Regions from separate parts of the Homo sapiens genome. Here region 2 is linked to region 1. The links come from fine-mapping of genetic effects on gene expression. A gene starts in region 1. The other region holds a variant in brackets. All regions are shown on one strand. Distances are between the middles of the regions.

What was found. PIP is the estimated chance that this variant, and not a neighbour inherited with it, causes the effect.
Region 2: its variant is fine-mapped to the expression of MAP3K4 in monocytes after R848 (Quach 2016, PIP 0.95). The same link has a PIP of 0.9 or more in monocytes after LPS.

Annotation. Positions count from the first base shown.
Region 1 is chr6:160,989,276-160,993,666 of GRCh38, forward strand. MAP3K4 (mitogen-activated protein kinase kinase kinase 4) reads left to right here and starts at 2,494. Exons shown (of 27, transcript NM_005922.4): 1 at 2,494-2,808. The coding sequence starts at 2,657. It overlaps MAP3K4-AS1 (MAP3K4 antisense RNA 1), which reads right to left and starts at 3,067. Exons shown (of 1, transcript NR_174962.1): 1 at 1,043-3,067. RefSeq lists enhancers at 1,930-1,989, 2,010-2,079, 2,032-2,901 and silencers at 2,170-2,499, 2,962-3,256, 3,170-3,299.
Region 2 is chr6:161,107,048-161,111,438 of GRCh38, forward strand. MAP3K4 (mitogen-activated protein kinase kinase kinase 4) reads left to right here. Exons shown (of 27, transcript NM_005922.4): 21 at 852-922; 22 at 1,696-1,812; 23 at 2,708-2,867. Among named protein-coding and RNA genes, the nearest start is that of AGPAT4-IT1, 53 kb to the right of the region's middle. The variant T/C (reference allele first, on the strand shown) is at 2,225.

The sequences.
Region 1 (4,391 bases):
AGCAATGTTCTGAATGTTACGTAGCTCAACCTAGACTAGGTCTTCAGTAGAACCTTAGCTTTTTAAACTCATTTCAAAGTAAAGAAATTCCATAAGGGCTATGTGGATTCGGTCTTGAGGACAAAGAGTGAAAGGTAATTCTCTGAAGATTTTGTTGTCATTGTTTTTAACATGATTAGGCTGGGTGCAGTGGCTTACACCTATAATCCCAGGGTTCTGGGAGACTTGAGGCCAGGAGTTCAAGACTAGCTTGGGCAACATAGTGAGGCCTCAGCTCTACCAAAAAAAAAAAAAAAATGTTTAAAATTAGCTGGACATGGTGGTATGCATCTGTAGTCCCAGCTACAGCAGAGGCTGAGGTGGGAGGATCACTTGAGCCCAGGAAGACCCTGTCTCCAAAATAAAAAAAGAACATTATTAAAGGTAATGAGACAATGAGACCAACCATGTGCTAAACAAGAATAAAAATTTAGAGACAAAAATCTAATAACTTAAAAAAAATAACTATTTCATTAATGCAACAATACTTACTGAGTTCTACTAACACCATGTTGGGCACCAGAGACATTTGATCCCTAGGCAAAGGTCAGAAGAAGGAAGAACAGCTTCTTTCCTGAAGGAGCTTACACTATGGTGGAGAAGGCAGAAAAGAAATCTGGGGGCTGTGAGGCGCTCACTGGGAGCCCTGAAGACAAAGTGGGGGCACGGGGTGAGATGAGAGGGTTGTCAGCCAGAGAAACAGCTTTCCTGGACCCAGCATGGGGGTGGGGCGAAAAGTCACAACACTTATATTGAATATTTAGTACCAGTTAACTTAGGTTTCTATACATGATGCATTACTTGATTAGGTAAGTGTAAATTTACTTGGTTCCTGCTAAAATACATAGTATCCTCAAGTGGAAATTAAAACACAAGAACAAGCCACAGGTCTCCCGCATGCTGATTATATTTGCTAAGTGTTTTGTGACTTGGACACACGTGTCTGCATTATCAGCTAGCTTAAATTCGGTAGTCATACCAAAGAATACGTAGTACAATGCTGTTTAAAGAAGAGATTTATTTTATTATTTAACTTTTAAAGTCTCTAATATGCCTTCTAAGAAGGGTTCTGGCTCAGAAAATTGCAGAAGAAAATCGAGTAGAGAACTAGAATTACAGAAACCTAAGAAATACTTTTACTGAGCTTTCTTCACACAAGAAAATGCACGGAAATGAATTATACATGGATACCAATTTGTGATTTTTAAAAATTTGTAATTTTTTAAATTAAGATAAAAATTAGTTTATTTTTTTGAATACTTTTTTGTTTTGTTTTACCTCACCCTTTACTAAGCTGTTAGCTTGGTCTGTTGCGCTTACTGCTATATCCTCAGCATCTAGTACAGTTCCTGACACATATATGCACTTAATAAGTATTTGTCAAATGAATATTATTGAGTAAATAAGATGAAGGTCAATTCAGAAATTCAGCACTATCAGGCTATATACATAATACAGACTATTATAAAAAACTAGAATGGAGCAGTTCCTTTTAACGACGGAGAAATGTCAGTAACATACTTTGAGCACAATATAGCTAATTTCACAACTGGTCTTTAAATATAACATACCTATAATCAATTTAATGTTTTTCTTTGTTACCAGAGTTGTTCAAAACGTGCGTTTCACCTATCAAAGCTCAACTAAATGAGGTTTAAGAAATCTGCACATTTGAATGTACTTAATTTTAAAAGATTCTGGTTTTGGATTAACTCTGGATTTCACCCTATGGGAAATTTTGTAAATATTTCCAACTTAAAAAAAAACTGTGAAGCCCCAGCGCTAAGAGTAAACGATGCATTGGAATTTCAACAGGATTTCTGTAACTCTGAAATAATCTTTAGCATTTCTTCTTCCCCCCATCCCCTCAGTGTAGGAGCATTCCAGTCCAAGTTTCTGGGAGATCGCTATCGAATCTTATGACACTGGGGTGAGAAGTTTTGCCGGGTTGAAATGAGGGGGTCACTTTAATAATCTGGAATTCCGGAGACTTTATGTCAAGTCTTAAAAATTCGAGCCTGTGGAAGGCTGCGCTGTCAAGAGACCGGAGTTGCGAGCGTCTGGGTGACGTCCGTCCTCCTGGAAGGTGGGATCCGGGTGGCAGGTCCCTGGGCGGCGACTCCGGCCGGGCTCATAGCGTCGCGCCCGCCCCGCTCATCGGCCCTACCCAGCGTCCCTCCCAGACCGACGACCGCCTGGGAAGCCTCGAGCTCCCAGCCCGCTGCACAGCCCGGCTCCGCTCCACAGTCCCCCACTGCCACCGGCCGGGGCGACACCGGGCGAGCTGGCGAGACCCGGCTCCAGGACCGAATCGCGCCGACACTTGACGGCGCTCCCCGCCCCTCCCTGCCGCCGTCTCCGCCCCCGTCCGGTCGCATTCCGGCGCCCGCCGCCGCCGCCGCCACCGCCGCCGATCTGGGAGGCTTGTCCCTCGCCGCCCACCGTAGCCCCGGCGCTCGGCCGGTCGCCGTTTCCAAGATGGCCGCGGCGCGCACGGCTCCTGCGGCGGGGTAGAGGCGGAGGCGGAGTCGAGTCACTCCCGCACTTCGGGGCTCCGGTGCCCCGCGCCAGGCTGCAGCTTACTGCCCGCCGCGGCCATGCGGGGCTCCGTGCACGGATGAGAGAAGCCGCTGCCGCGCTGGTCCCTCCTCCCGCCTTTGCCGTCACGCCTGCCGCCGCCATGGAGGAGCCGCCGCCACCGCCGCCGCCGCCACCACCGCCACCGGAACCCGAGACCGAGTCAGAACCCGAGTGCTGCTTGGCGGCGAGGTGAGTGTGGCGGCCGCAGTCGGTCGCTCGCAGAAAGCGGGGCGGGTCCTGGCCCGAACTCGGTCGGGCCCGAGGGCCTCTGCTTCCCGCCAGGTGGGGAGGGAAGCATCCAGTCTCTGCAGGCTGGGGCGGGAGGGGCGCGGTGCATCCCTGGGTCCCAGGGGACCGCGTCTGAGTCTGTCCGGCGACTCCTCCCGGGGTTGCAGCTCCGCAGGGTTCCGCTCGAGCGTGTTGCCGGCTCCCCTTCCCTTGTAGACTCCCCCAGCTCACCCTCAACGTTGCGGGGGCTGGGAGCAGAGTGCGGCTGCCTCCCCTGCCGCTAGCTTCGGAAGAGTGGCCTCACTGAAGTGCCTCTCATCATTACTGAACGAAAGTGGTCCCTCCCCTCTGCCCTCATTCGAGTAAAAGAGACATTCGGAAATCGAGTGCGTACTGGCTATTTCCCCGCGTTCTCCTCCTCCTCTCCTTTTGCCCGCTCCAGAGAATGCCTGTCATCTCTTCCGTGAGAAATTGCACTTAGACTATGCAGACAGATACGTTGCTTTCCTGTTCTGAGGGCCCCTTACTGTCCTTTAGTGCTAGTATTGTGCAGATTGTTGCTCACACGTGCACAAAAGTAAGGATTCATTTGTCTAAAACTTTGCTACTGCAGGAAGCTCTAAGGTGGAACTTCGGTAACCAAAGCATTTGTTGCTTTTTCTTCCATACTCTATTAACTTATTTTTATGTCTTTATTTTTTTTTTAATTGAGAGAACAAACTCACCATAACTGAGAATTTCCCTCTTTTTACGTGCCTATGTTTGTATGTTCAAATGTCCTCTTACTCCCTGTCCTTTGCATCCCAGAGTAAACTTGCAAACTGCTGCCCCCTGTCCCCTGTAATGAAAATACCTCGGCAGCTCCTCTTGGCATCTTATGGTCTTGCTCTATGGTTCTAGGAATAAGGCAGTAAAGTGTCCTCTTTTTCCTGCTTAAAGAAAATTCACACCTGTAACTGTAGTTAGAACTGAACACAGGAGCCATATTCTTGCTTGTCATCATTCAGTTGGCCCAAACAAATTTGTTTTATTTTTATAAGCTGTGAAGAAATTAGTTGCCTCTTTTAATTCTGAGATAGTTCTGGGTACTTCTAAGGAACAACTTCTCTGAATAATGGTACAGGGTGTAATGAGAATTCCTTTGGTTCCTTTTGAATACATCTAGTATTTTTAGAAATTTTGTCAGAAAGTTTATTATAAATTTGTTAACGGATCAGTTTTCGAGCAATTTTGATACCTTTTTCTTTAAAATTAATAGTGAACACTTAACGGTTAAAATAGGCCATTGTCTTTATTTCTATTAACCCATTTAATCTTTTCAACAACTCTATGAGGTAGGTCCTGTTATACTCTCTTTTTGACAGATGAGGAAACTGAGGCACACAGTTTAAGTATCTTGTCCAGGGTTTCACAGCTGGTAATGAAGAAAGGTCTGGCTGCACAGCCCATGTCTTTAACCACCATGAAGAATTCATTATCCAAATGGGCGGATCAGAAATTAGAATTCTGTATAACCCTACTCCGGAAAGAAATGGACATGAGCA
Region 2 (4,391 bases), 120 kb after region 1:
GCGCACACACACACACACACACACACACACACGCAGAACGTGATTTGAAGAGAGACTGGATACAAATGAGGGCAAGACAGTCTTCTTTTCTAAAACATTGCCTCATTAATTAATTTCCAGGTGGAATTGCTTCATGTAAAATAGTCGTAAATTATGTGAGGGAAGAAGTCTTGTGTTTCAGATCCTTTCCCCACTTAAATATATTTATCTGTCACACATCTAGGTCTGAAGGGGGCGAACACAGTTGTATGAATAATATGGGACTTTGTCAGCCTGAGGAAACCTGATGTTTCCTTGGAGCTATCAAGGAGGGCAAAAACCACTGAAAACAATCAAGTACTTTATAAATTGGATTAATTATTGTTATCAGTCTTGTCCAGGCACATATCCTCTTGCTTTAATGTCCCAGAAGGTATGTTAGGGGAATGTTTGCTCCCACACACTCCTGGACATGTGCCAGTGAGGAAGACAATGGTCAGGCTTAGTCCTGGCTGTTTTCTGCTGCTCCCAGCCCCAGCCAAGATCTCCTTGAGGGGTGTGAGGGCTCAGAGGTGTGCACCAAGGCTGCTTTTATTGGTCATTTTCATGCTTCTCCTGGAATTTACCAAAGTCGGTTCTGCTCTATTTAAAGATACTTGTAGGTAAGACATATTAAAGAGATTGCCTAAAACTTTAGTTATCAGGGAACATTTAGAAAAATTTTGGATCTTGCAATAGTAAACTGCAGTAAACATAATTATAGATATATAAATATACGTCCAAAATAATTGGACAGTATTATTACAAGTTTAAGGAATGTAAGACAGCCCCCTGCAGTGGCTGGAAGTGCAGCTTGTTTGCATTGTTCACAGGAGAAGGCCAGTATGGGAAGGTGTACACCTGCATCAGCGTCGACACCGGGGAGCTGATGGCCATGAAAGAGGTGAGTCACCTGGCTCCGTGGGGCCTTTGGGCCTGGCGGCTCTGGGTGATAGAAATTCCGTATAGACGCTGGTCGTGATTCAGTTCTCTGTGCGTAGAGCTGTCTTCAGCACCAGCACTGCGACAGTCAGGACCAACCAGGCAGATGCACTGAGATAACACACACAGACAGTGAAGGGGCTTACGATTCCAGAGAGGATAATAAGTCACAGACAGTTCTAACAGCACAGGTGTGAGAAGGGCCTATGAGGGTGGCAGAGCTGAGTCTGATGAAGGCTTAGAGGAGAGGATTAACAGTAGTGTCTTATGGGGACACATTGGGGGAGAAGATAACATTTATGATAAGCTTCAGAAACAAGTGGCATTGAAACCGCTGGAGGTAGGATGGGGAAAGGGCCAGGGAACCTGAAGTAGAAACAGGACTCACTGCTGTCTGTGGAGACATCCGGTTTGACGTGGAAGGAGGAGAGGAGTGGAGAGGGGAGGCTCCAGCGTCTTGCACTTGCCGTGGAGCCGCGTCCTCCTCCACATGGCGCTCCTCACTCCCTCTCGGAGCAGGGCCTCTTCCTCCTCTGTGCCCGGGACCTACCCGCACTTCTATGACTTCACTCTAGCTTGGCTAAAAACTTCCTTTTTACTTAATTTTTTGTTGTTTTTAATTGACAAATCATGATTACATATATTTATGGGGTGCAAAATGATGTTTCAGTGTATGTGTATAATGTAGAGTGATTAAATCAAGCCAGTTAACATTTTTGTCACCTCACTTTACAGATTCGATTTCAACCTAATGACCATAAGACTATCAAGGAAACTGCAGACGAATTGAAAATATTCGAAGGCATCAAACACCCCAATCTGGTTCGGTATTTTGGTGTGGAGCTCCATAGAGTAAGCCGACCCTAATGCCACTCTTTGTGTGAGGAATCAGTGAGGGCACAGAATGGAGTCCTGTTCTACATCACAGGTCTTCTCATTTCAGAGCACAGTAACTTTGCCTAATTCTCAGGAAATCTCCATGAGTTACATCATTTCTGCCTTCTCTCTGAAACTAGAGGAGTTCCTCCTAAAATGTAAGTTGTAGACTGTAGTCATTAACCCGACATCATAAAGCACTGAAACCCATCCTGCCATTCAGAAGATTCTTCTAAAACGCCCCTTACACCACTTCTTGTGACTTTTTTTCCGTTTTTTTGCTGAACCACTGTTGAGTACACTGTTAAGTAATACTGGTTTTTTTCTTGTATGTATTTAGGGAGCCATTGTGAAATGAGAGAAAATTCAAACCTCAAATTGAGTTTCC[T/C]CCTTGTGTTTAGAAATAAACACGTCGAGGGAAAGAGGATAACTTGGAGCATCGTGGTGTAGAGCATGAGCTTCCAGGGGAAGTTGGAAATGGATCATTTTTAATGTTTTTACAAATTATGTTTAAAAAGGATGTGTTTCAGTACTTAATAATGTATTTGTAGGGACAGCCCTGTTGGTCCCTGTCTGAGATTATATAGCAGACTTAATTTCAGAGGATAATAGAAATTGATCCCCTGTGATTTGGAGATGTTCTTATCCCCAAGAGCTGTATAATTCCAGACAGAGGAGGCAGGCAGACACCTCTATAGAGGACTTAGAAACGACTGTTGTGAGACACATTCAGTGCTCAGGATGGCAAGTGTAGTATACCGTTAGAAAGAACATTCCTTTGGGGTGTGGCCTAGGAAGTTTTCCAGATTTTTCACTAGCGTACATCTAAGGAAAACCGTAAACACAGAGCTGCCCTTTATTCCTCCCACAGGAAGAAATGTACATCTTCATGGAGTACTGCGATGAGGGGACTTTAGAAGAGGTGTCAAGGCTGGGACTTCAGGAACATGTGATTAGGCTGTATTCAAAGCAGATCACCATTGCGATCAACGTCCTCCATGAGCATGGCATAGTCCACCGTGACATTAAAGGTAATCCCACACCCGCCTGGCTGCTGTGGGCCAGAGCCACTGGTACCCAGCCCGTGGGAGGTGCTCTGAAGACGCTCATCCCATTCCCACATATGATTTCTCTAGATGGAAATACCTTTCATTGAAATACGCCTCTATAAGGATCCTGTATTCAGAAACAAGGTAGAACTCATGTCTCTCTACCCAGGAGTCCGCTCTTTCTGTTCAACACTGCTTTTAGAGAAATCTGTTTTCCCAAAATGAAGTTTGCTATTTTTATAAGCTGATTTGGCATAGCCCGTGTACTTACCAGACATTCGTGATCAAAGCAACCTTTTTTTTCTCTCGTGTCAGGATTCTTGTCTATTTATATATGAAAATCATGAATATGTAAACCGACAGTAAATCAGATCAGAAGTGCACATATAAATTTGAGGCTACGTTTTTGAGACAAGAATGGGGTTTGTTTACACAAACCTTGAAATTGAGTTCTGCTGAAGGTTATTTTGGCCATGCTGATGGATTAAAAGTGCTCTTCTCATAGCACGAGGGGAATAGCTGGGCTTCTGTCTCAGAACGGTCACCGTGGCATTTGCCTTAACCACGCCATGCCCCTGACCTTTGTATTTGCAAGTCTTGAGGATAATTAAAATGGGGAAGTATTTTTGTGCCTATTTGGCCCTAGGCTGAAGAGTTTCATTCTGTCCTGTAGTCTGAGGCTAACCTAAACACATTAACTTAGGAACCGACCTGACTTCTGACCAGGGACAAGACCCAGTGTGGGAGGTTATTTTGGATTACACCAGTCTGCTTTGGTCTGGGTGTAAGCATTGTTCGTGCTCTGTAATGTGGCTCACCCTGAATCACCCAGCATACACCGGTCTCATTGGCTGCCTGCCTGTCCGCTACCTTGCTTTGGTGTCTGGGGTCATCCTGATGTTGGCTTAACTGGCTCTGTACCAGGCCGTAGCACTGCCTATTTCTAGTCGTTCTGCCACAGACACCATCCTCAGTCTCTGTCCACTGTCACAAAATGGTGTTTGCACGTTTGTTCCGTGGCAGGAAGAGACTCCCTTAGAATCTGAAGCAGGTCAGCTCACTGGTGTCTTATCCAATGCTTTCTAGTTCAGCATGGCTAAGAAGGTACAGATGTACAGTCGCTCGAGAAGATCAAGCTGCCCCTCGTAGTCAATTGTGGGGAGCATCAACTCTAGGAGCACTGAGTTATGAGGATTCGCTGTTGACCTCAGCTCATCAGATGGCTGCTTGTCTAACTCCATTGGCTCTGTGTTGTTGCTTTTCGAAGGAGGTACCATAGAACACAATGCCAGAGATGTGTGACTTAGTTGGAGCAATAATATCTTGCAGCCTAGAGCAAAAGGCCAAGCTGTCCTGAGAGATGAACAGTATTCCCAAATTCTAACTAGACTACAAGTTAAGCATATATGTTGCTTGTAGGAATATTTGAAAATTGCAGAACAGTTTTCAGTCACGTCATATAAATGCAAGGGCCTCAGCTGGGACTCTGAAGAACTGCAGTGCGTG